Linked DNA regions of Homo sapiens. The protein of the gene in region 2 interacts with the protein of the main gene of each other region in a pairwise test. Each region holds a gene or a part of one and is shown on either strand. Other genes may lie near its edges.

Evidence for each region.
Region 1: the proteins of CFTR (region 2) and WWP2 interact in binary tests that used the Homo sapiens proteins (3 or more experiments, as listed by UniProt).
Region 3: the proteins of CFTR (region 2) and CREB3L1 interact in binary tests that used the Homo sapiens proteins (3 or more experiments, as listed by UniProt).
Region 4: the proteins of CFTR (region 2) and DSTN interact in binary tests that used the Homo sapiens proteins (3 or more experiments, as listed by UniProt).

What each region holds. Positions count from the first base shown.
Region 1 is NC_000016.10:69,926,297-69,933,331, forward strand, and holds part of WWP2 (NEDD4-like E3 ubiquitin-protein ligase WWP2), read left to right. Parts: intron 1-3,151; coding exon 3,152-3,233; intron 3,234-3,833; coding exon 3,834-3,962; intron 3,963-4,855; coding exon 4,856-4,931; intron 4,932-5,212; coding exon 5,213-5,284; intron 5,285-5,505; coding exon 5,506-5,594; intron 5,595-6,784; exon of another isoform or gene 6,785-6,884; intron 6,885-7,035. UniProt on the Homo sapiens protein: E3 ubiquitin-protein ligase which accepts ubiquitin from an E2 ubiquitin-conjugating enzyme in the form of a thioester and then directly transfers the ubiquitin to targeted substrates.
Region 2 is NC_000007.14:117,665,025-117,669,200, reverse strand, and holds the end of CFTR (cystic fibrosis transmembrane conductance regulator), read right to left. Parts: intron 3,743-4,176; coding exon 3,637-3,742; intron 2,294-3,636; coding exon 2,093-2,293; 3' UTR 536-2,092; downstream 1-535. UniProt on the Homo sapiens protein: Epithelial ion channel that plays an important role in the regulation of epithelial ion and water transport and fluid homeostasis. Mediates the transport of chloride ions across the cell membrane.
Region 3 is NC_000011.10:46,294,659-46,301,693, forward strand, and holds part of CREB3L1 (cyclic AMP-responsive element-binding protein 3-like protein 1), read left to right. Parts: intron 1-500; exon of another isoform or gene 501-675; intron 676-5,276; coding exon 5,277-5,505; intron 5,506-7,035.
Region 4 is NC_000020.11:17,601,067-17,608,101, forward strand, and holds part of DSTN (destrin), read left to right. Parts: intron 1-3,488; coding exon 3,489-3,565; intron 3,566-5,970; coding exon 5,971-6,080; 3' UTR 6,081-7,035. UniProt on the Homo sapiens protein: Actin-depolymerizing protein. Severs actin filaments (F-actin) and binds to actin monomers (G-actin). Acts in a pH-independent manner.

The DNA.
Region 1 (7,035 bases), on a different chromosome or scaffold from region 2:
GGAGCAGAAGAAAGCAGTTTTTGCGGGAACCAGCATGTGTTGGGTTTCATTTATTGGTTAGGCCAGCAGAAGACGGTAAACGTTGGTTTGGTGGTGTTGACAGATGGTGTGAAACTGGGAGGGGGTGCGCTCGACAACAAAGATGGAGAGGTGCATCCTGGGAAGTTGGCAGTGATAGGATGGGCATCTGATGCCTGGAAACATGCAGGTTTGGAGCTGGATCTTCTCGATGCAGACACTTCTGCTCTCGGGTAGTTATTTAAGAGGTTGTGTCAACCCTGTTATACCTGCAGGGTACCACTTAGTCAATGAGCACTGCAGTCCAGTGTGCCAGAAGGGCCTTCTGGTCCTTCTGATTGGAGAGATCATTTAGTGAAGCTTCCACACATTTGTTGATGTTCAGCTTGGGGATCCCTTACGCAGATAGCTGCCCCACATGGCTCCCTGGACCAAAGAAAGATCATTAGTATCTCAGAGATTGGCAGCAACTCCAATGCGAGAGAGTAAAACTCTGAAGACCCTGCGTCGTCAGTAGGCAGGGGAAAATGCGTCAGATTAAACAAGAATCTGTACTGCTGTTTAGTAGCCAGTGGCATAGAAGCCGGGGACTTCTAGTGTATTTCAGGCTCTGTAGAGGCAGGTGATGTAGCCCAGTCAAGTGGGTTTTCATGCCAGTTCTGCTGAGTGATGGTCACCAGGTAAGCACAGCTGATGGAGACTTGAAAACAGCTCTCGAATGCTAAGTGTGGAAATATTTGAGATAGAAATGGAGGAGCCGTGGTCAGAGTCGATACTGTTAATGAACGATCAGAAAAAAACCCACAAAACTGTCATAGTCTAGAATTAAGAGGAAGAACATTCTGGCTAAAGGCCAGGGCTCCTTCTGAATCTCAGATCCTTGGGGATCTGTGTTGGCTGCCCCAGGGCTGTGGCTGGGGCCGGCTCCCCAGGGCTCACCGAGAATGAACAGGAAGAACAGCCAGACCAAGTGAGAGTGATCGGCAGCTTGCTAACCCAGCCTGCTGGTGTCCCTCTCTGCTGCCCCAGGAGAGACCCCGCATCTTCCCCACACACTGCTGTGGGACTCAGGACACCTCGGGTTCAGATCCACATCTGCCCTCGGCAGCCCTGACCCTGGGCCTGTGGCTGAATATGTCTGAGTCCCTTTGTCCTAAAATGAGGTCGAGCCAGGTGTTCCTGGGGTCTTTCCCAGCCCCCAACTGAAACTGAATGCCGCGAGGCAGCCAGCCGGCCTTGGGAGGCCTCCACACAGCAGCAGTGCCAGAAATGACGACACAGGCCTCAAGCCCGCTGGACAGATCCCCCTGGCCCTGTGGTTAGCCTTGGCTTTGGCCCTTAACAGGGCAGACGTGGAGGATCTAGTTCAAAGCAGTAGCTTCGGGGCTGGGAGCAGCCCCTCCCCTGGAAACCTCTTGGGAAGCCTTCCTTCTGTGTGTTCTGAGGTGGTGGTAGCTCTGTAACAGCTCTGGGCACCTCCTGTTCTTTCTTTCCTTTGGCTTTCTTTTATTTATTTTTTATTTACAAAATAGAGATGAAGTCTCGCTGTGTTGCCCAGGCTGGTCTCGAACTCCTGGGCTCGAGCGATCCTCCTGCCTCAGCCTCCCAAAGTGCTGGGATTACAGGCGTGATCCACCGTGCCCAGCCTGTCTTTATTTTTATTTTATTTATTTGTTTTTCCAGCTTTACTGAGGTATGATTGACAAATAATGTCTGTTTGTAAAATTTCAGTCGAGTCATAGATACCAGGTAAGGCAGAGAGTGGGAGGGAGACTGAGGCCTTGGTCTGGTGTTGGGAGCACTGCAGCTCGAGTCTTGGAGTCAGGAGGGGGTTGTTGCACTTCCCTGTTCTGCTCCTTTTTCAGCTTTCTGGTTCCCTGTAGCTTCTGGAACTGATTATTTTTGTTTCTTTAATGCTGCCCTGTCTTGTAAAAGGAGAGCCATTAGCATCATTTGTTTTCAGGAGAGAAGCAGATTTGAAGGCTCAGGAACTTCCTGGGAAAGGTGACCTCTTTTGAGCCAAGAGCTTTACCCCCTAGTTTTTTGTTTTTTTTTTCTCCTGTCTACCTGGAGCTGAGAGGTTATCCCTTTCAATCCCTCTCAAGGTCCAGAATCACCAGCTAGGGTTGGGTCTGCCCCTGGAGCACAGACTCCTCCCTTGGGGACCCCAGAGCCCTTATCAGTATATCAGTAAAGGGCAAGAGAACAGAGATTGTTCAGAGCAGAGGAAAAGTGTATTTGTTCCCCAGCCCCACTCCATGAACATTCCCCTGTCTCAAAGCACATACTTAGGCCTAAGAACAGGATAGGCAGGCCAGGCACGGTGGCTTATTGCCTGTAATCCCAGTACTTTGGGAGGCTGAGGCGGGAGGATCACTTGAGGCCAGGAGTTCGAGACCAGCCAGGACAACATAGCGAGACCCTGTCTTTATATAAAAAAGAAAAAAAAGATACAAGTCTAAGAAGAGGCTGGGCAGTGTAAGTGTCCTCAGCCCCAGATATCATTTATTTGCTTATAAGCAAGAAAGAGGCGTGCCAGGGTATGAGAGTTTTAGAACAAGACTTAGCCTGTAAGTGGGAGAAGAGGGAGAACTTGGAGGGTACAGGGGCGCAGGGTGCAGAGCACTGATCAGAGAGGTGCGAGGGAAATGCAGCCACTCCATAAGGACCACGCCCTGTAGGACAGAGGCGCCCAGGTTAGCTGCATGCAGTGCAGAGGGTCCCAGGACCAGGGATCAGCTGTGAGGGACTTGGGTGGGGGGCCTGGCGGGTTAGGGACTGCCCGGCTTCCATGCTGCACACAGCTGGGAGCAATTATGCCTCTGGTTTGAGCTGTGCTGCTCCCTCTGGGTGGCCACACCACCCCCTCCCTCCGACCAATCAACCAAAGAAGTGCTTCATCTCGAGTTGGAAGTATGTCACCCCCGCCCCCCACCACCAACAAGGAAGGACCCTCTTTGTCCCTTTCCCAGTGACAAGTGTGAGTGAGCTTGGCTTTGGCTGGTTCTTCTCTAACAGGCTGACAACAGGGAGATAAACTCAGACCCAGCACCCAGGAGGTGGGAACCTCAGGGAAAGGACACCGGCTCTCCGTGTTTGAATCTGATGTTCTTTCTTTCTTCTCATGTGGCAGAGAAGAGACAGGACAATGGACGGGTGTATTACGTGAACCATAACACTCGCACGACCCAGTGGGAGGATCCCCGGACCCAGGGGTAAGGACTTGGGCTGAGAGGGGGGCCGGGCTGGGCTGGGTCTCTGTGCAGCTCCAGCACTGGGCAGGTGGCTTTGGACTGCATCGTCCCAGAGGGCTGATGTCAGGGACCTTTAGCCACACACAAGTGTCTTGAGACTCTCACCGTACAGATACACTGTTGGCCTGATGAGAGCTTAAAAGGGGTTTCTTAAATAGACCTTCCTGGTGGATGGAGGGCGGCCCGGCTGGCGGGTGTTGCTGGTCTCCATACTGATTGTGCTGGCTGCTGATAATTGGATTGCAAAAAGGTTGAGGGCATCCTGGTCTCCCAACACCCCCAAGTGAAGCTGTGCTGGGGCACAGGGTGCCTCAGGATTGCTGGTGGCTGCTCAGTCCAATGCCATCCATGCAGGGCTGGGTTTTTGGCCATGAGATAATAAGTGACCTCTCCGTGCTGCAGAACTGTTCTCACGACTTGGGTCATGCTTCTTGGGTGCATGTCCTCAAAGTCCCTCATGGGCTCTGCAGAGACAAAGCCACACTTTGAGGACCCAGCCTCCAACCACCAAGGTCCAGAAGGTGGGGCCAGCCCTTCACCCTTTTCTTCCCGTGTTTCCAGGATGATCCAGGAACCAGCTCTGCCCCCAGGATGGGAGATGAAATACACCAGCGAGGGGGTGCGATACTTTGTGGACCACAATACCCGCACCACCACCTTTAAGGATCCTCGCCCGGGGTTTGAGTCGGGGTAAGGACTTTGTGCAGGTAGCAGCAGTGTCAGGAGCCGAGGCCCAGGCTGTCCTTGTTCTGGCTCTGGGAGGCCCACTTTGGGTGGCCCCTGTGGTGCGTTCTACTGCCCTTACTGCCCTCTAGTGGCCAATGTTGATGTCATATTAAAGGGGATGGGAGGATAGCTTGAGCCCAGGAGTTTGAGACCAGCCTGGACAACATAGCGAGACCGTGTCTCCACAACAATAAAAAAGATTAACCAGGCTGAGAAAAATGGCAAGACCCCATCTCTACAAAAAAAAATTAAAAATTAGCTGGATGTGGTGGTGCATGCCTGTAGTCCCAGCTACATAGGAGGCTGAGGTGGGAGGATCCCTTGAGCTCAGGAGTTTGAGGCTGCAGTGAGCTATGATGGCACCACTGCACTCCAGCTCAGGTGACAGAGTGAGTCCCTGTTTCTAAAAAATAATAATACATTTAAAATTAGCTCGGTGTGGTAGCACACTCCTGTAGTCCTAGCTACTTGGAAAGCTAAAGCGGGAGGATCGCTTAAGACCAGGAATTCGAGGCCGCAGTGAGCCATGATCACACCACTGCACTGCAGCCTGGGTGACAGAGCAAGACCCCGTCTCTAGAAAACGAACAAACAAATAAATAAGATGGGATGGGGAGGAAGGGACTATCCTGTTTATTCCGAATGACACTAGAGTTATTTCTCTAAAAGCAAGAAGTCTGGCTTTATTTCTAGATTTTCTTTTTTATTCTTCAAGGATCTTAATGACAGTCACTTCCTCACCTTACATTACTAATCTTTAAATTAACATAGCACCAGCTTTCCTTAGGGCTGACAAAGACAAATTGTTCATTTTCTGAGAAATCGCATGAACCCCTGAACATCTTTGCTCTTCCTAGGACGAAGCAAGGTTCCCCTGGTGCTTATGACCGCAGTTTTCGGTGGAAGTATCACCAGTTCCGTTTCCTCTGCCATGTGAGTTCTGGTACTGGGGCTCCCGTGGCAGTTGGGGTTATTGAGTTATTTCAGTGTGAGTTCCCGGCACAGCAGCAGGTATCGGAATGTTTGTGTCTTAGGCGGGCGCAAGACACTTGTCTAACCCGGAGCTGGCTGTCTCTAGGAAGCTAGTTTTCATTCCTAGGGCACATGCTATTGCCTCCTGGCCCAGCAGGCTGGGGAATGCCTGTTCATACAGACAGGAGAACAGATGACCACTTGAGGCTCGATTTAAAGTTCTTTTCTTTTTTTTTTTTCAGTCAAATGCCCTACCTAGCCACGTGAAGATCAGCGTTTCCAGGCAGACGCTTTTCGAAGATTCCTTCCAACAGGTTAGATCATGGTGCCCGAAACCAGTGGCAGGCCGACGCCCTCCTCCCAGCACCCCATCTCCTATCGCGTGGCCTGTTAAACCCACACTGCAGACTTTCCAGGGCGTGAGTCTTGGTGACTGTGTCTGCTGGATATTGGGCCTTAGAGTCCCCTGTCCCTCCCGCCCCTGCCTGCTGTGGAAGGGAGAGTGGCAGGCTGGCCCGATGCTCTGTCTTCCCAGATCATGAACATGAAACCCTATGACCTGCGCCGCCGGCTCTACATCATCATGCGTGGCGAGGAGGGCCTGGACTATGGGGGCATCGCCAGGTGAGCTTGAGTGCCCCGGAAGGCTGCCCTGTACCCCGCTTCCCCAGGCTACAGCATCAATGGCCAGAAAGCTGCCTGCCCCCTGCTCACATTCCCTCCCAAAGCTCTCATGCATCTTCAGGAATGGGCACAGTGTGGCATTCAAAATACGTGAACCCGCCAGGCGCGGTGGCTCACGCCTATAATCCCAGCACTTTGGGAGGCTGAGGCAGGTGGATCACCTGAGGTCGGGGGTTCGAGACCAGCCTGACCAACATGGAGAAACCCCGTCTCTATTAAAAATACACAATTAGCTGGGCGTGGTGGTGCATGCCTGTAATCCCAGCTCCTGGGGAGGCTGAGGCGGGAGAATCGCTTGAACCTGGGAGGCAGGAGGTTGCAGTGAGCCGAGATCGTGCCATTGCACTCCATCCTGGGCAACAAGAGCGAAACTCCATCTCAAAAACAAAACAAACAAAAAAACAAAATACGTGAATCCATGTGGCCAGTCCATTGGGCCTGGAACAGGGGCCTGGGGTGCCCCACTGGGCTGGACATTAAGCCTTTAGTTACTGGGTCATGAGGCGACGGAGGACTCCTGGGAGGGGCGAGAGCTCAGTACAATGGCTCTGTTATCTACCAATGTGTCATGTTTCTGTACTTTAACAACCAGGCCAGCAGCATCTGGGCAGTTGAATATAGGGGCCATGTGGTCATCCATTAGAGTTGACCCTGGGATCCCCTCCTCTTAAGGCAGCCAGGGCAGGTGAAGTCAGGTGTCCCCGTGTGGATAAGCTGTGTCACGATCCACAGGGCCTTGAGCAGGGCTCAACTGCATGTCACATGCCTGGGGTCAGTAAAACTGTAACGGCTTATGTCACCCTAAAAAGAGTCCAAAGCATTGTCTTGCCTTCACCCTGGTCCACCCATAAAAGTTAACAGGCCCTCTGGGAAATGCTGCCTTGGACAGCAGGGCAGAAGGGCCCCGGCAGAGAGAGAGAGCGCTGTGGCCCGCAGCGACCTCTCCGCTCGAGACCTCTCCCGGTGTGGGCATGTCTTCCCGCTTGGTGTTGGGTTAACTTGCTTCTGGTCCTCTGTTCGGTGGTGGCGTTGCCTTCTGCGCTGGCCCCGTGGATGGATGTTCCTTTTTTCCGTGGTGACCTCCTCTCCAGGCTCTGCTTGGTGGGCTTCTGGTGTGGCCGCGCCCTGTGTGTGTCTCTCTCTGTGTCCTGCCAGTGGTTTTACCCTATGGTAGGTTACGTCATGCTGTTCTACCACAGGGTAGAACCACGGACAGGATACCGGGGCACCCTCTGCGTCGACGGACTCCTCGTCTGCCCAGCCACAAACAGCCCAGCAGCTGGGGACTGGCCCCCTTGGGACATCCCCTTGCTGGTTTAGCTCAAGCCCAAAAGGACTCTGAATTCATGCCTGAGGCTCGCACCCAGGGCACGGGTGTTGG
Region 2 (4,176 bases):
ACTACTCTATAATGAATATTATTCAACCTTAAGAAGGAAGAAAATTGACCCATGTTGCAACATGGATGAGGCTTGAAGACATTATGCTAGATGAAATAAGCACAAAAATACAAATACTGTATGATCCCACTCCTAGGTCCTTCGAGTAGTCAAAATCAGAGACAGAAAGTAAAATGGTGGTTGCCAGGCATTAGAGGAAAGATAAATGCGGGATTATTGACTAACGGGTAAAAAGAGTTTCAGTTTTGCAAGAAAAAAATTCTGTGGAAGGATGATGGTGATATTTGCACAACCATGTGAATGTACCTAATGACACTGAACTGAACTTTAAAATGGTTAAAATGGAAAATTTTATGTTATGTATATTTTACCATAGTTTAAACAGATAACTAAAAATGTGTGTTCTAATTCATGTGAATTCTCAAAAGAGGCTATATCTAAAAGACAGATTCGTGTTTCATGTTCCATGAAGCTTAGAAATTGGAGTGAGAGACTGATGAAACATGACAAGTGAACGCATCTGAAAACAACAAAGTTTCACACAAATGTATGGATTTTATTGACAAGTGATATTTTCTTACAGTAATAAATATAATGCAGTCTTCTTAAGAGTCAGTTTGGAGTTGAGAAGGCAGTGTACCCTTGATGGAAACAGTCAGACTGGTGGTACCATCTTCTTCAGAACTGCATCTAAGAGGCTGTGCTGGCTGGGAATCATACAGCTGTGGGCAACAACTGCATCAGCCCCAAGGCTTCCCTCCAGACCAAAAGGTGATTCATGGCCCCTGGTTAATATCACCCTAGGTTCTCCCCTGTCCCAGTTTTAACATAATATTTCATAGAAATACTAGTGCCATAAAAAGTCAATATTTCAAATATAAAAATTATTTTATACAAATGTAATTCATAATCATTCTTTTAAAATACAGCATTGTTATATATGTTTGAAACATTATTAAAATAAATATTTCCTAGAGAAAAAATTTTGCTTCACAAAATTATAAAACAGAAGCATATAAAACTAATTCATGATTGGTGCTTCTTCAGTGTGTCTCTCATTCTCTCTTAGTGTAGACAGCATGAAGTACATACATCTAGCCTGAAAACATACCACCATCAACCTATACATCTAAATGCTTGGACTTCATGTGTGTCTACCCACAGTGCCCATGGCCTATCTACTTACACACCCTCTACCTGGAGCTTCTGTGGAAAGAAGGGCTGTCCTGTGACAATTTGCACTAACATACTTTTCCAGCTAAACTCTAGTTCAAAGGTCTGTGAGCTTGTCACTTTCTGGAGTTGGGAAAAGGCATATCAACTTCTTCATCAAGGGAACCATCCTGTCCCCTGTGAAAGATTATAACAGCCCTTTCCCAGGTAAGGGATGTATTGTGATTATCTGAAATATTGAGATTTTTGGTAGACCTGGACAATACTAACCCTGATTTCCAGGATCTGGAAGTTCTCTTTCCTGACTGCTCACTAGATGTTGAATGGGGCATATTTTGATGTGCAGTCTTGTGGTTCCTGTGGTATTCTAATACTTGCTTGGAAATGAGATAGTTGGAATGCTTAGCAAACAATATAGTTGTGTTTCTAAACATCATGGGGAGAGGAGAGAAAAAGGAATACAAGCTTATATAAACCGCTGAAGTTTCCAGTTATCATTACTTAATCATAACCCTAAGAAGTATGATTTCAGTTCTTCTCCAACACTACAAATTAACGAGTTTCACTAGACAATAAGCTGATCAACTAGGCTGATTGACATTTAGAGCTGCCTTTCCAATTACTAGCACATGGCAAGGGTTTTCAGGAAAATCTGGCTTGCAAAACACAAGTGGTAAATCTTCAAGGATTTGAAGTACCTTTCACACAATTTGACTATTGCCAGGAAGCCATTTATCAAGACCCATATCAGTGTCCTCAATTCCCCTTACCAAATGTTTCTTTTTTAAAAAAAAACTTAATTCATCCTTGTTTTCTGAGGCAGAGGTAACTGTTCCACGAGCTCCAATTCCATGAGGTGACTGTCCCACGAGCTCCAATTCCATGAGCAAATGTCCCATGTCAACATTTATGCTGCTCTCTAAAGCCTTGTATCTTGCACCTCTTCTTCTGTCTCCTCTTTCAGAGCAGCAATCTGGGGCTTAGACTTGCACTTGCTTGAGTTCCGGTGGGGAAAGAGCTTCACCCTGTCGGAGGGGCTGATGGCTTGCCGGAAGAGGCTCCTCTCGTTCAGCAGTTTCTGGATGGAATCGTACTGCCGCACTTTGTTCTCTTCTATGACCTAGGGAAATGGCTGTTAGTGAGATCTGGGACAGAAGGCAGGTCAGACCAGAGCAGGGACAGAAACTGGCACAGGCTCAAAGGAAAATAAAAGTCAAAGAATGCAATGTCCAGAGCCTTGCATTTTGAACAATCAGGTATGTCACATTTAACTGCTGTGTCCTTTTGCTCTAAGGAGGTTCTACCATCTGTGAAATTAGTTGTGATTTTCTACTCAGCAGCTGGAAGATTCTTCAGGGAGGTTTAGTAGAACTGAAGTTGCTTTGAAAACAAAATATTAGGTCCCTTATAAATTACCTAGAAAATGAGCGTAAGTCTACAGCACCATAAAGAGTTGAGCCTCTTCCACAGTGATCTGAAGCTTAAGAATTCCAAATTGGTCAGGATGTGCCTGAGTTTAATACACCTCCTTGGCTTGTTCAGGTTGAGCAAATCCAAGATCAGACAATAGAGGACTTTACTTAGATTCTTGAACTTGTCCATGGCAGGGCAAGAGGTTGTGAGTCTGCCCCCCTAATTTGTTACTTCAAGCTTAGTGATAATCATGGTAATAACAAGCCTTCAGTAAGGAAACCATTTACCTCCAGGAGGCTCAAAAGCCTGAACAGAAATGACGTGATACATCATCCTCAGAACTTCCTTGTGACTAAACCATAGGGAATTTGTAAACATCACTTGAAAGAAGCTGTGACAGTTTTGTTTTGTTTTAATAAAGACAGATGGGGCCTCACTATGTTGCCTGGGCTGGTCTTGAATTCCTGGCCTCAAGTAATCCCCCCACCTCAGCCTCCCAAAGTATTGGGATTACAGATGTAAGCCACTGTGCCTGGCCATGTGACAGTTTTTTTAAGAACAGTGAGAAGGTGGTTGAGAAAGGTACTACCTGAACCCAAATCATGGCTAGAAAAATGAAATGTGCCTCTCAACTTTGTCATTAATACCATAAATCAGACTGTAAGACAACTAGGCCTGTCCCAGACCACATCCATGGGACATTTAGTTATTGAAAGAATCACAGGGACCTTTTTTAAAATCTTAAACAGTAGAGTATTTTGTATGACTTGGTCCCCAAATAAAGGGCTCAAAAAGTATATATATCCTATTTATAAACATAACTTAGTAATATGCTGCCATTTTAGATTTACTATATTTCAACCTCACCACATGGCTCAGATCAAAGTGAAAAACTTGTGCAGCTATTTTGAGTAAAGCTGGATGGCTGTATGATACATATTTTTGAAAAGAACTTGTACATTGTTGCAATTTGCAGGAACTATCACATGTGAGATTGTTATCAAGAATTACAAGGGCAATGAGATCTTAAGTAAAGTTATAAAGACTCACCAAAAATTGTTGGCATTCCAGCATTGCTTCTATCCTGTGTTCACAGAGAATTACTGTGCAATCAGCAAATGCTTGTTTTAGAGTTCTTCTAATTATTTGGTATGTTCTAGAAAAGAAAGAAAATACCACACATAATATCACAGAACAGTAATGATCTGTATTTACCTTGATAATATGTCTATTGTTCTATTATCTCTTTAAATTACTTATTTCTTTAAGTTCTTTTCACATAATGTTGATATAGCGTTAGCCACAATCAGCTTTTCAACCATGGGGTAGACTCTAAGTATCCATAAATAAACAGGACAAATATTTCAAAGAAACTTTAATAAATGAGTACATTTTTCATTATGTAGAATCACCAGTACTTCTTTATTTGGGGCTATAAACATGCTTATGGTATAAATGGGATACAAAGGCAAATCATAAGGATCAGATTAGGCCCATGTATTTAAAAGCTTCATCATGTGTTGACAAGGGGGAAGAGTTTGTATGAAACTAAAAACTATCTTCGGAAGAAAACACAAGACTCTTAGCAAG
Region 3 (7,035 bases), on a different chromosome or scaffold from region 2:
TTAAGGACAGGGGGGTCTGCTGACAACCGGGGACTCAAGGGGCCCACCTCCTCTCCCTGCTCTCACCACTCCCCGCCCCCTAGGCACAGCAGTGACTCAGACTGAAGGCCCTTCAGCTTGAAATGGGGACAATTTTCTAGTGACCACGAGGCAAGTAACCGTCCGGGAATGCATGGGTCAGTGTGTGTTGGGGTGTGGGGGGGTCTGTGGGCCCCAGCCTGCGGGGGGAAAGAAAGGGGGAAATGTGAGAGGCCTCTCCTCCCATCTCTCCCTAGCTCTCACTCTCTCGGAAGGAATGTCCGGGCTCAGGATTCCCCCCCACCCCTTATCCCACAGCTCAGCCTGGACCCGCTCTGGTCTCCTCCCTCCTTTCCCCAAGCACAGACTGAACCAGCCTGGGCCGGGGGAGGGGCAGAAGTTAGGAGTGGGGGTGCAGGCGCCAAGGAGCCAGGGACCTGAGGGAAGAGGGCGCGCTGAGGCTGCTTCTGGTCAGGGAAACCATTCTCCTACACCGACCCCAGCAGGCAGCTGCGCCCCCAGAGCTTTACCCTGTCTCTGCACTGACCTTGGGGAAGGAATTTAGGGAGGGGTAAAACAAGGCTAGAGCTGGTACCATTACTGCCCCGGGAGAGTCCCCTCTGCCGCCACCAGAGACAGCCACCAAAGCGCCCCACGGTAGGACGATTCGAGATGGAGCTGCAAGGGGATTTAAGGCCCGGCTCGCCCTTTGAGTCGGGGTCGTCGGGGAGACCCTCGGTCTCCACTTCTCCCTGCGGGGGTGGGGGCGGGGCCGCGCTACTGATGAGGGGTTTAGGACACCGTGAGACGGCCAGGCCATTTCTGCCTCGGCCCCAGACGCAGAAGGGGTCCCATGCAGGCCCGAGCCAGTGCACCCTGCGCTCCCTCAGCCGCGGGCCGTCGGCGCAGGCCGGGACCCTCCTCCGCGCGAGCCCTGCACTCCTCCGGTGCCCTCCACGCCGCCACCGGCTGCTGCTCGCAGCCTCCCGCCATTGGCCAGGAGCTCTGCGGCTCCCACCAGTGAGCAGGCCGGATTCCGGTGAGGGGCGGCCCCGGGTGTTCCCGGGTTAACCCTTTGTGGGCCGCTCCAGGACGGCGGCACCCGGATCCTTCTCTAAAATTTAAAGGGCGGGCGGCTGAGGCCAGGCTCCAAGAGAGGGTGCAGCCGAGAAGAGGGGTACGCAGGTCTGCAAGCAGGAGAGCTCGGGAACCTCTCCTCCAAGGGAGGGAAGCCGGCGCCGGCTGCGCGTGACAGCCGAGAAGGAGCTTATATTGGCACGACTATAGGAAAAAGTCTTTAACGAGGAGGGAAACAAATCATAATATGTCCTTCTCCGGCTTCCCACCCCCGTTGCCTGGAAAGGCACCCCTGTAGGACGCTCACCCCCTGCAGAACCCTGTCGCCCTCAGAGCGTTGACACATGGCTCCCCTGAAGTTCGTGAACTCCTGGCCGCCGACCCCTTGCTCTTGCTCCCCAATTTCCATCGGACAATCTAAACCTGAACTTTTGTGTGTGAAGTGGAGGGAGGGCTGGGTGTGGTTGGGGGTAGAGGGGACAAGGGGGCGTGCTGGAGCGGAGGAGGTCTGAGGTCTCCAAAATGGGCTTTCCAGGGATGGGGCCAAGTGGATGCGGTGGAAGGAGTGAGAGGACCAGAAGGTCCCGCACACGCCAGGGCAGCCCTGGACTTCACCAGCTCACTTTGCAGCCCCGGACATCACCAGCTCGCTCACTGTGCGTCCTGGGTAGCTGTGTTTCCCTCTCTGGACTGGAGTTTTCTCTACTAAGAAATAGGAGGGGGGGAACGAGGGGCAGGGGACCGTCGGGGAGCTTTCTCCCGTCCCTTCTGCCTCTAACTTGGTGATAGAAACCAACCCTACCTTAGCCGCCATGAGAGGCCAGGCATCAGACGGAACTAGGGCCGCAGAGCGCTCTAGGGGAGTCCCTGATGGCAGTGCTCCCAGGAGGGCGAGGTGGGCCTAGGGATGATGGGACGCGCCCACCGTCCACCCAGCACCTGAAGAAGCCCGGCGCAAAGAGGACCTGGGCGTCGGAGTGTCCTCCACCCCCACCCCGCCTGCCCCTTGGCCGCCCTCCCCTTCCACTTGGCTCCCGTTGCTCTGGAAGCTCCATCCTGCTGGGTTTTGGCTGCTGTTTCTAGCAGGTGGGGTGGGGACTGCTCACACAATGGGGCCAGCTGAGCTCTCTAAGCAGTTTCCTGTGGGCACCCTAAAAGGGTCTCTGGGAAGAACCTGGGTCATCTGCCTGAGCCAAGGCCTTCAGGGAGTCCAGCCCAGATCCGAGGAAGCATCTTTCCTCTCCCAGGCCCCAGGAAGGGGCTTGGCAAACCCTTATCGCCTGAGAAGCAGCTGCTGGAGAAATACCTTAGCGGCTGACTCACCGGCTCCCTCTGCTCACAGCCCCCTCCCACTGGGCCCAACACCAGGCCTTTGAGAGACCCTAAGGGAGAGAACTGGCGGAAGCGCCCCCAGCCGGCAGGCCCGGGCTCTGCGGAGGGTGTAGCCAGCGCGGCCCTGGCTGTGGCTGGCTGGGTGGTTGGGGGGTGGTTATACCCTGTAAATGGCCTCTGTCTGGGATCACAGTGATTCTTAGAAACTCATTCAGCTCTGACCTCCTGGTACTGCCTCACTCCAGGTATTGATGGACAATTGGTATGCTGATGGCATTGCCATCTGGGTTCTAAGGCCCTGTCCCTCCACCAGTATCATGAGCCAGGTGCTGGAAGGCAGCAGGTGAACAGGGTGCAAACCCTGCTTCAGGGCAATTACCGGACCGGGGAGGGTCTGCTGCAGTTGTAAAAGACTGGACAGTGAGGGATGGTGGGCACCTCCCTGCTGCATTAGCGCCCTTGGCCTCAGTTTCTCTCTCTGTCAAATGCCAATATGCATTTGTCTTGTCTCATTGGATAATTGTGAAGATTAAATGAAATAATGCATAGGAGAGCACTTTGGGTTAAAAGCACAACAGAAATGTAGGATGATGATTGATTGCTGGCAAACTGGGAAGTGGGAGAGTACCCCTGCCAATGGGGCTTCTGAGCTCATTTTGTCCTGGATTATCTCATCAGGCTTTGTTTGGAGGGAAAGGCCAAACATTCCCCCCACAACTCCCACCATTGGTTCCAAGCTCAGCTCGGGGACAGAGTTTAGGGGCTGCAGTTTTCATGATGACGATAACTAACAATGATCGAGCATTCACTCTGTAGCAGGCACTGTTCTGTGTTTTATATGTACAGTATTTACTCATTTTACCCTCATACTCCTATGAGGTGAGTACTAATCTAACAAAATTTTAGATCCTCATGGCAACACTATGAGGTAGGAACTATTATTTTCCCCTTACGGATAAGGAAACTGAGGCACGGGGAAGTTAAGCAACTTAGCAAGTGGTGGAGCTAGGAGTCAAAAGCACGTCTATGTGACTCCAGAGCTCGTGTTCATCTCCTACTCCATGCAGACAGACTCATGTGGCCCTGAACCTTATGCTCATACAGAAGGCTTCTCTGCTCATTACCTTCCAGGTTGGGACAGGCTCCCAATATTCCAGGCCAGAAAGGGCCAACAACTCCAGACCTTGAAGGAATCCCCTGGCACAAGCCTTTAACCACTCAGCAGGCAGGGCTTCAGGACCTAAGGCAGCCCCCCATCCCCCATCTCTTCTGACCCACCAGCAAATTCATTCGTTCAATAAATAAGGAACAAACAATAGAAACATTTATTGGACAGGCACGGTGGCCTACACCTGTAATCCCAGCACTTTGGAAGGCCGAGGCGGGCAGATCACTTGAGGCCAGGAGTTTGAGACCAGCCTAGCCAACATGGTGAAACCCCATCTTTACTGAAAATACAAAAAATTAGCTGGGCGTGGTGGTGCGCACCTGTAGTCCCGGCTGCTTGGGAGGCTGAGGCATGCAAATCACTTGAACCCGGGAGATGGAGGTTGCAGTGAGCCAAAATCATGCCACTGCACTCCAGCCTGGGTGACAGAGTGAGACTCTCACAAGCAAGACAGAAAGAGAGAGAAAGAAACATTTCTTTACACATTTATAATTCTTTAGAGAGAGAAAAATAATGTACAAGAACCTACCATATGTCAGCCACTGGAGTGCTTTACTAACAATAAGAGGCAACGTTTATTGAGTAATTACTATGTGCCAGGGACTGTTATAAGGCCTGTACGTGGATTAACTTGTTTAATCCTCATGACAATCTTGGAAGGTAGGAACTATTAATATTACCAGCTGTACAGAGGACGAAATGAAACAGAGAGGTTAATTGACCTTCCCAAGATCATGGAGACCAAGATTTTTCAGACTTTTTTGTTTCTAAGAAATATATTTTACATCATTACCAAGTACACACATGTGCGTTCACACACACAACTGTGATTTTTTTTAATTGCCAGGTATTTAACTCCACTGTGTGCTGTGCACTCTGATATTTTCTACTTTTTTTTTTCTGTTTTATTTTTACTTAAAATTCTGGTCGTGACCCACTAAATTGATTTCACAACCCATTAATGAGTCACCACCCACAGTTTAAACAGCACTGAATCATAGCTAGAAGGATGGAGGCCACCATTCGAACCTAAATAGTAGGGCTCCGGAGCCTAACCTCTCCATATAAAGGATGGCTTGGGAAAGGAGAGAGACCCCGAAGTCTTGAGGACAGATGGACACTGTGCTGCTGAGGAGACTGGAGGCCTCAAGAATCCCACTGCCCTGCATCACTCCCTTCCCACATTCCAGCAAAAGATCATACAAAATTCACTAATATTGCCTTTGGAAAACAAACTTGTTGGCGTAGACACACGGTTGTTCTTTTACTTTGTCTTCACATCAGCCTATGAAGGAAGTAAGAAGGACTGAGAAACTGACTCACGCAGTTTAAGTGATTTGACAAAGGTCACAGAGCCCAGTGTCCTGTTGCCTGGTCCAGGGAGTTTTTGATCCCATCCTGAGCTCACCCTTGCAGATAACAATGGTGAGCGTGGAGCTGGTGGTAGAGAGAATGGGATGACAGTGGTAACGGTCATGATGGAAATGATGAGAGTTGGTGTTGCAATGTTGGTACTGGGGAGATTGGTGATGTTGCTGATATTAATGGGAATGGGCACAGTAATGGGAGGTTGCAGGGACAGTGGTGGCCATGGTGGGGTGCTGCACCACCACAGTAGCACCTGCACCCCCTTCCCAAGCAAAGCTGAATTCCCTCTTCCCCTCACCTCTTCCTTCCCTAGCACTTTCCTGAGCACCTGGACCACTTTACGGAGAACATGGAGGACTTCTCCAATGACCTGTTCAGCAGCTTCTTTGATGACCCTGTGCTGGATGAGAAGAGCCCTCTATTGGACATGGAACTGGACTCCCCTACGCCAGGCATCCAGGCGGAGCACAGCTACTCCCTGAGCGGCGACTCAGCGCCCCAGAGCCCCCTTGTGCCCATCAAGATGGAGGACACCACCCAAGGTAAGAGGTGGAAGAACCTGGGGACAGCACAGGCCCAGGAGGCCCAGGAGGGAGGAAGCTCTGGGGTGACAAGAGAGTGTGCCTGCAGCCTGAGACTCCCAGAGGCTCCAAGAGGAGCCACCACAAACCCCTTAGGAGGTGCTCCTCCCTGCCTTTCTGTTCTCCCTCAGCTCAAAGCCAGAGGAGCACTTCTCAAAAGGGTTTTTTGCTGACTTAAGTCAGTGGTTTACAAAGTGTGGTTCCCAGACCAGCAGCATCACCTGGGAATCTGTTAGACATGCAGATTCTCGGGTTCCACCCCCAACCTGCTGAATCACAACCCTGTGGGTAGGGCCCAGCCTTCCAGGTGATTCTGATGCACACTCAGATTTGCAAACCGCTGACTTAGAGGAGACAGTGGGGGTAATTCAATAATAACTGTGGGGCCGGGTGTGGTGGCTCACGCTTGTAATCCCTGCACATTGGGAGGCCGAGGCAGGTGGATCACCCGAGGTCAGGAGTTCGAGACCAGCCTGGCCAACATATGGTGAAACCCCGTCTCTACTAAAAAAAAAATACAGGGCCGGGCGCGGTGGCTCACGCCTGTAATCCCAGCACTCTGGGAGGCCGAGGCAGGCGGATCACTAGGTCAGGAGATCGAGACCATCCTGGCTAACACAGTGAAACCCCGTCTCTACTAAAAATATTAAAAATTACCCGGGGGTGGTGGCGGGCGCCTGTAGTCCCAGCTACTTGGGAAGCTGAGGCAGGAGAATGGCGTGAACCCGGGAGGCGGAGCTTGCAGTGAGCCAAGATTGCGCCACTGCACTCCAGCCTGGGCGACAGAGCGAGACTCCATCTCAAAAAAAAAAAAAAAAAAAAAACCAACTAGCTGGGCGCGGTGGTGGGTGCCTGTAATCCCAGCTACTCGGGAGGCTAAGGCAGGAGAATCGCTTGAACCCAGCAGGCGGAGGTTGCCGTGAGCCATTGCACTCCAGCCTGGGTGACAAGAGCGAAACTCCGTCTCAAAAAAAAAAAAAATACAAAAATTAGCCAGGCGTGGTGGTGCGCTCCTGTAGTCCCAGCTACTTAGGAGACTGAGGCACAAGAACTGCTTGAACCCGGGTGGAGAAGGTGTAGTGAGCTGAGACCGCACCACTGCATTCCAACCTGGGCAACAGAGTGGGACTCCATCTCAAAAATAATAATAACTGGCTGGGTGCAGTTGCTCATGCCTGTAATCCCAGCACTCTGGGAGGCTGATGCGGGTGGATCACCTGAGGTGAGGAGACGAAGACCAGCCTGGCGAACGTGATAAAACCCCGTCTCTACAAAAATACAACAATTAGCCCAGCATGATGCCCTCCATCACATGGTGCCTCCATTACATGCTGCCTGTCATCCCAGGTACTTGGAAGGCTGAGGCAGGAGAATCACTTGAACCTGGGAGGCGGAGGCTGCAGTGAGCCAAGATTGCGCCATTGCAATCCAGCCTGGGCAACAGAGTGAGACTCCGTCCCAAAAAAAAAAAATAGACGGGGTGCTGTGGCT
Region 4 (7,035 bases), on a different chromosome or scaffold from region 2:
AGCCTCTGTAAAACTCATTTTGTTAGCACTCGGGAAGACCAGTTCCAGCACCAAAGTAATTTTTATTCAAACTATTTGCAGTTGTTGTCATTTAATTTTTATTTACAGGTTTCATAATGTTACCAGGGCTGATGTTTATGGGACCCAAACTAAATTTTGACTATTTTCTATCTACTTGTTATGTGACTCTCCGTTTTTGTTTTTTTTTTCAATGGGGAAAGGACAGGAGGCATCCTCTGAATGTACTGCTTTTATAGGCTAAAATTTCCTACTACTTTTAACTTTCTTACTTATAAGCCAAAACCCTACTTTTCCAACGAGCCATGCCAGGAACCAGCCTTCTATCTACTCTTTTAAATTACACCCCTTCCTTGTGCCTCTGTGGTCTACTACTTTTGAAGAAATTGGTACCATTCCCTCCCTGCTATAATTTGCTCTACAGTTGCACTGTTTAGTAGTGTAGTCACTAGCCACATGTGGCTATTTAAATTATTTAAAATTAAAAATTCAGTTTGTTAGCTGAATGAATTACCACATTTCAAATGCTCAGTAGCCACATCTGACTAGTGGCCACCTTATTGAGTAGCACAGATACAGAACATTTCCATCATTGCAGAAAACTCTGTTGGGCAGTGTTACTCTTAGATAGTGAAACAGGGCTATAAAGTTATTTTTATGGCCTTTTTCTTGAAATGTTGTTTAGTTATTCTGGTCTTTTCAGGCAAGTCGGTATTTGAGATGAAGCTTTAGAAAAAAGTTACACCTGGATCCCTCATTTATTGAATATTATACTGCATTCCTTGATATGGCCAGGAGTAGAATTCTTTAGTTTCTAAGGGGAGGGAGAAATGGTAACACTACCTGATTTTTTTCTTTTTTTTTTTTTTAGAGGGGCAAGGATTCTCTTGATACTTTGGCCTGAGTCAGGGCAAGGCAGGGAGGGACTTAGCTTTTAGCTATGTGCCATCAATAGCTTGGAGTGTAAAAGGGATATGGGAGTAGGAGATGCAGAGGATTGTGGTTTAAAAAGGAAGATAACTCGAGGTCACACCTCACTTGTATTTCAGTAAGCTTTTACTGCACTTGATTAAACCAAGTTGCTGTGAGGAATGCAAATATGAGGTCAGGGTGCACGTATTCAGGCAGCTTAGAGTCCATTGAAGCTGGTACATAAGACTGAAAATTAACAAGGATTTGAATGAAGGTGCATTTACTGAACTTTATTTCTACTACACGCCAGCTATTGTGCGAGGGCCTGGGAAAACAGCTGTGAATAAAACAGGTTAAGTCCTTCCTCTTCTGGCATTCACAGCTGAGTGGCAGACAGGCCAGCTAATGGTTTAGGCTTTTAAATTGGTCGGTATTTCCTTAATTTGCAGGTATTTTTTCTGCTTTTTATGTATTTTGTAATTATGAAAAGTATGCATTCTTATTTTTTTAAATGTGGAAAATAATAGAAGAAAAGGAAATTTAGTGTTAGTGCAGTGGTTTATTTTGCACTGTTACACTGTTACTTAAGAAAAGGTAGAACCTTATTAAAGGCATTTTCTATAACAAGCTCCGCCCATGGCCCAGGGAGCAGCTCTTAAAGTAGTTTAACAATTTGGTTAGAATAAAAGCAGAACAGCTGATGCTTTTTTATGTTTCTGACCTATTTTCATAACAAAAGTACCCACTCTGCTGGGCGCAGTGACTCATGCCTGTAATCTCAGCACTTTGGGAGGTGGAGGTGGGCAGATCACGAGGTCAAGAGATCGAGACCATCCTGGCCAACCAACATGGTGCAACCCCATCTCTACTAAAATTAACTGGGCATAGTGGCACACGCCTGCAGTTCCAGCTACTCGGGAGGCTGAGGCAGGAGAATCGCTTGAATCTGGGAGGCAGAGGTTGCAGTGAGCTGAGATCACGCCACTGCACTCCAGCCTGGGTGACAGAGCGAGACTCCGCCTCAAAAAAATAAAAAATAAAAAGTACCCACCCTGTAGCTCAAACATCTGCCAGTCCTGAGGTTGTGATGGCTCTGCCTCCTTCCCTGGACCTTAGGATTGGGAGGAATAAGCCTCTGAGAGACAGACTGCCCTTTTTCCCAAGAATGGAATCTCTGCTCACTAGGGTAAGGGGTACACTAGGTGAGGTCCACATGCCAGTGCTCATGGCTGTTGAATGTCCTGGAAATATGGCAGCTAAATGGAATTATTAAATGCTCAGAAGTATTTAGCTATACCGTAATATCTTAATGACCTCCAGTAGGCTCTTGGAAACTACAGCTTTAAGCAAAACAACATACACCAGGTCCTCAAATAACGTCATTTCTTTCAATGTAGTTTTGTTATAACATTGAGAAAAAAAAATACTGGTTTTGGTATATGTCATTTTGTTTTAAGTCACAGGCTCCAAGAACTGATTGACAATGTTAAGTGTGGACTTACTGTACTGCATCTTCTCTGTGATATTTTAGCAGTGTGGCATGGAGGTGGGCCTATGGGTTGGCGTACAGAGGAAAGAAGGACCTCCGTGCAAGCAGTCTGAGTGGGAGGGTTTCTGTCCGTTACTAATCATCCTTATTCTTCAGTGTTGCTGCTGAAGGTGCTGTGACACATATGCTGTGCTTCTAACACGCTTCCCTTCAAGAGGGAGAACGTGCTCCAATGTTATAAATATAAAAAGATAGTAATAATATTGACAGTTAAGACATAATTATTGGTGAGTTGCCATTTAGAAATCTTTAGAATCATGAGATTATACAAGTGGATTTAATATTTTTTTCCAGAGAATTATTGAAACGTGGATGCCCAGATCTGTAATTAAACATGTATTGTTATGTTAGACTAAGAAAACAAGTACCTGTGGGATCAAAACCTGCTATTGGAATAGATGAAGGGACTGGGGAAGTCTAAGAAAAGGACTTTTATTTGTAATTTATTCTTTTTTGTCCTTTTTTTTAAGTTTTTGATTTATTCTTTTTTAGAAAACAATCTGAAGCAAAGGTGCCAAAATATTAGCATTTAATTCTGGGTCACACGTACTTACGGATTATTCTCTGTACTTTTATGTATTTTAAAACTTTTTTCCAACTAGAAAAACTGTCAAAAACCTTGTGTAAATATTAGCCTGAATCCAATCCCTTATTAATAATAATGAAAAATATTCTGAAGAAAAAGAATTGGGTTATACAGTGAAGTACTCAGTGTTGGTTCTTTCATTATGGCGACTGTAATCTGATTTTTAATTGGTGATTGTCTTTTGCCACCAGTGGTTCTCTTCTTTTTTCCCACCCTGGTCAACCTGAGTGATTCTGCATATGCCTATCTGTAGCATTTCCTCTCTGAGCTGCTGGGGAGGTAGAAAAAATGTGCAGTTAAGAAAAAATATCTCAGGAGAGTCTGAGGATTCTCAGCAAATGTTTACACAAGCAAATGTTTAACAAGTTGCAAGTTATACTTTCTCTAAACCACTTTTTTCATTTTTGGCATCTTTCTATCTAGGGCACCAGAACTAGCACCTCTGAAAAGTAAAATGATCTATGCAAGCTCCAAGGATGCAATTAAAAAGAAATTTCAAGGTATGTTCTAGATGACCTCTGAATATGTAGAGGTATGGTGAACACTCAGAATGGGGCAGCACCTTTTCTGAGAAGCACCTTATTTTTTTGCAGAGCTTCGGGCACAAGGGAGAAGTGTTACTTGTTTTGAGAAAAGCAGAAGACTGAATTTGACTTTCCATGTATCTTCTGCTTTGTGCTGGTTGCTCTGGGTCTGCCCAGCCTGTGTTTAATAACTATACCCTTGACATTGTCTATATATATCGTTTATTCAGGCTGGTTTTAAACTAGTTTGAGGTGCTACCAGTTTTCTCATGTAGGAGGTGGAGACTGATTGTTTAACATTGGACATAATAGTAAATTTGCTCTTGCCTTTGAATGTAGTTGTTATAATAAAGTTGCAAAAAGGAAATGTACCTAAATGAGAAAGGATGCTCTTTTCTCCAGCTTTACTGTTGAATGGCATGATTTTAGGTAATTAATTCATCTGTGTCCCAAGGAAAGTGCACCCACTCCTGAGCTGGTCAGTTGTATTTGACTTGCCACTGGGTGATTGGGATCCTGATGAGATGGCCTGGCCAGACTTCAGCCAGGAGAAAATGTTGGTATGATGGAAAGAACGTGCATGGGGCAAGTGCCCAAAGGCCTGCACTGAGGGCGAAGCCTGTCTAACTGCTGTGTGGCCTTGGCCAGAACTGCTTAACCTCCATGGGCCTTGATTCTCTCAGCTGTAGAAGGGGAGACTTGGTCTCATGTGTGAGTTTTAGTTTAAGAGTTTGCCCTGCCACCTTCCTGCCATGGCTGTTTCCAAACAGCTGAGTGAGCCAAGGTCACAAGGGCTTGGCCTGATGTTGATTTTGTTTTGTTTGTTTTACTGTCACTGGTTTTTATATTTTCATGGTAGAACAGGTTTGCCCTAGCCTGTTTTACTTAGTTCGGAAAAAAAAATTCTTGCTTCCTTTCCCGAGCCTTGCTGCTGCATAGTTTATTGCTGGGTCAGGTTCTTCGTGCATTTGGTTTGATGTTTGGCAACCCCCAGAAGTGTGTCACTGGGTTGCTAACTGACACTTTTAAATCCTTTAGCTTCAACACTTTCCCAGCCCAACCAAAAGGTTCACAGTGGATTCCTTATTATCTTTATTCTGCATTGCCTTTCAGTAAAGGGAATTGCTTTGCACACTTGATTTGGTGATACTAAAAGATAGTGGCCGGCTGGGTGTGGTGGCTCATGCCTGTAATCCCAGCACTTTGGGAGGCTAAGACAGGTGGATCACCTGAGGTCAGGAGTTCGAGACCAGCCTGACCAACATGGTGAAACCCTGTCTCTACTAAAAATACAAAAAAAAAATTAGCCGGGCGTGGTGGCACATGCCTGTAATCCCAGCTACTTGGGAGGCTGAAGCAGGAAGAATGCTTGAACCCAAGAGGCAGAGGTTGCAGTGAGCTGAGATCGCACCATTGCACTCCAGCCAGGGCAATAAGAGCAAAACTCTGTCTCAAAAAAAAAAAAAAGATAGTGACCATGCTGCCTTTTTTCTAATGAAAGCATCCACTGTCTTTCTCAGATCAGTCCTGAGTAGTTCAAAAGCTGACCTGCTGTGCTTTCAGCAGCTTGAGAAATAATGGTCTTTAAATGATGGGAATAACCATGCAGCTATTTAAAAGACAGTGGCCATTTACAGAGAAGCTACTGTATGTAATCCATAATTGAGCTCGTTTTTGCATTGTGGTAGTGTAATTGTTCTAAGAAAGCAATCAGTAACATATTTCACATAGTTTTCATTGTGATCGATTTCATAAATGTGTAGTGTAATACCATTGAAGAGCCAGCTGTTTACTTTTCAATACAGTTGACAAAATCAACTGTGCAATCAAAAATCATTTGTATTTTTATGTTTTAAAAACCAAGAAAATTTTCTTACTAGACCTGCCTTTTAGCTTTTTAGCAAAGTACAACATATCTTTAGAAAAGTGTATGTCACAAATTATTGTAGAATGTGTTGAATTTTTCAGAGTGAACATAATGGTTATTTCTTAATCTAATGACCAGCACCCCAGAAGCCTCCCTGGTGCTGTTCCCTTCAATTCATAGCACTTCTGCCTGCCCCTTCCTCCTCAAAGTAGCCAGCACCCTGGCTTCTAACAGCGTAAGTTAGCGTGGGCTGATTTTGTATGCTATACCTATATATATAATAGAATATATGCATTTTAAATCTGGATTCTTTCAGTGAATGCTGTTTGTGAGGCCCATCTATCTTGATGCATGTAGTTACAATTATTTTTTCTCGTTACTGTGTAGTATTCCGTGTTTGTATATACCCCAGTTTATCCAGATTAGAACTGGTCTTTTAAAAGTTTGGTTATCTTAGAGAAAGAGGTAAACTGCTGCCATAATTGTAAATAGAAGTGTTGTTTTTTCTCTCTAGGCATAAAACATGAATGTCAAGCAAATGGACCAGAAGATCTCAATCGGGCTTGTATTGCTGAAAAGTTAGGTGGATCCTTAATTGTAGCCTTTGAAGGATGCCCTGTGTAGATTATTCAGTGCCACAAATTGAAAGCTTCCATGTTTAATGTTATCCTCTTGCTATATAAATAAAGCAAATATATTTAGGCCAGGGTCTCACTGAGGGGGAGCTGTCTTGTCATCTTTTAGAGTAAACTATTCTATAAACATATGCAAACAGCCCTAAATAAATCTAAAGTCTAAAGTTTTATTGATGTGAAATTAAATTCTTATTGGCCAAATGCCTGTTTTGATGAGTTGATTTATAAAGATTTTTGTTAAGCTCAGGATTTTAAATTACACAGTTCACAAACAGTAAAGGCCATGTGAAGAGAATTATTACATCTTTATTAACCTCAGCATTTACTTTGTTTCTTTTGCTTAGGAAATTGCTCATAATCTGGTTATAATTTTGGTCCAAATTCTTTATTCTTCCTTGAGCTAAGCAGAATAATGGAATATAATATGTCTTCATAATATAACAACACTAATACACTAATAGTAAGATTAAGTTAGGCAGTCTTCTACCAAATGTGTAATGGAGATTGCCTCAAAATTGTGTCCACATAATCCACGCTCATCTTGCAAAGCGCTATTTCAGGCACATCATTGGAATACAGGAAGTAGCCCTGCACCTGCCAGTGAGCTCGCCATTCACTGATTGGAAGAGTGACCTGGCATCTTGGAAATCATTGTGTGTCTTCAGGAGAATGTGCAGTGTCTTGTAACAACTAATTATAATGCAAATTAGGGCTACATTGTAATCTGCTTTGTTAATGAAAATGATAAAACAGAATATTGACAAGCTAGGACACCTGTGGTATCTTTAATTGTATCTCCTTCAGAAGTTTGCTTCTTATGGTATAATAAAGTATGGAAGAATATTGAGTATATGTTTACTCTGGGCCTGGGAGAACTTAACTTTCTAGAGCAGTTTGTTGACTTGTGTGCAATGGGGAGAGGTACCATGATGACACTCACAGGG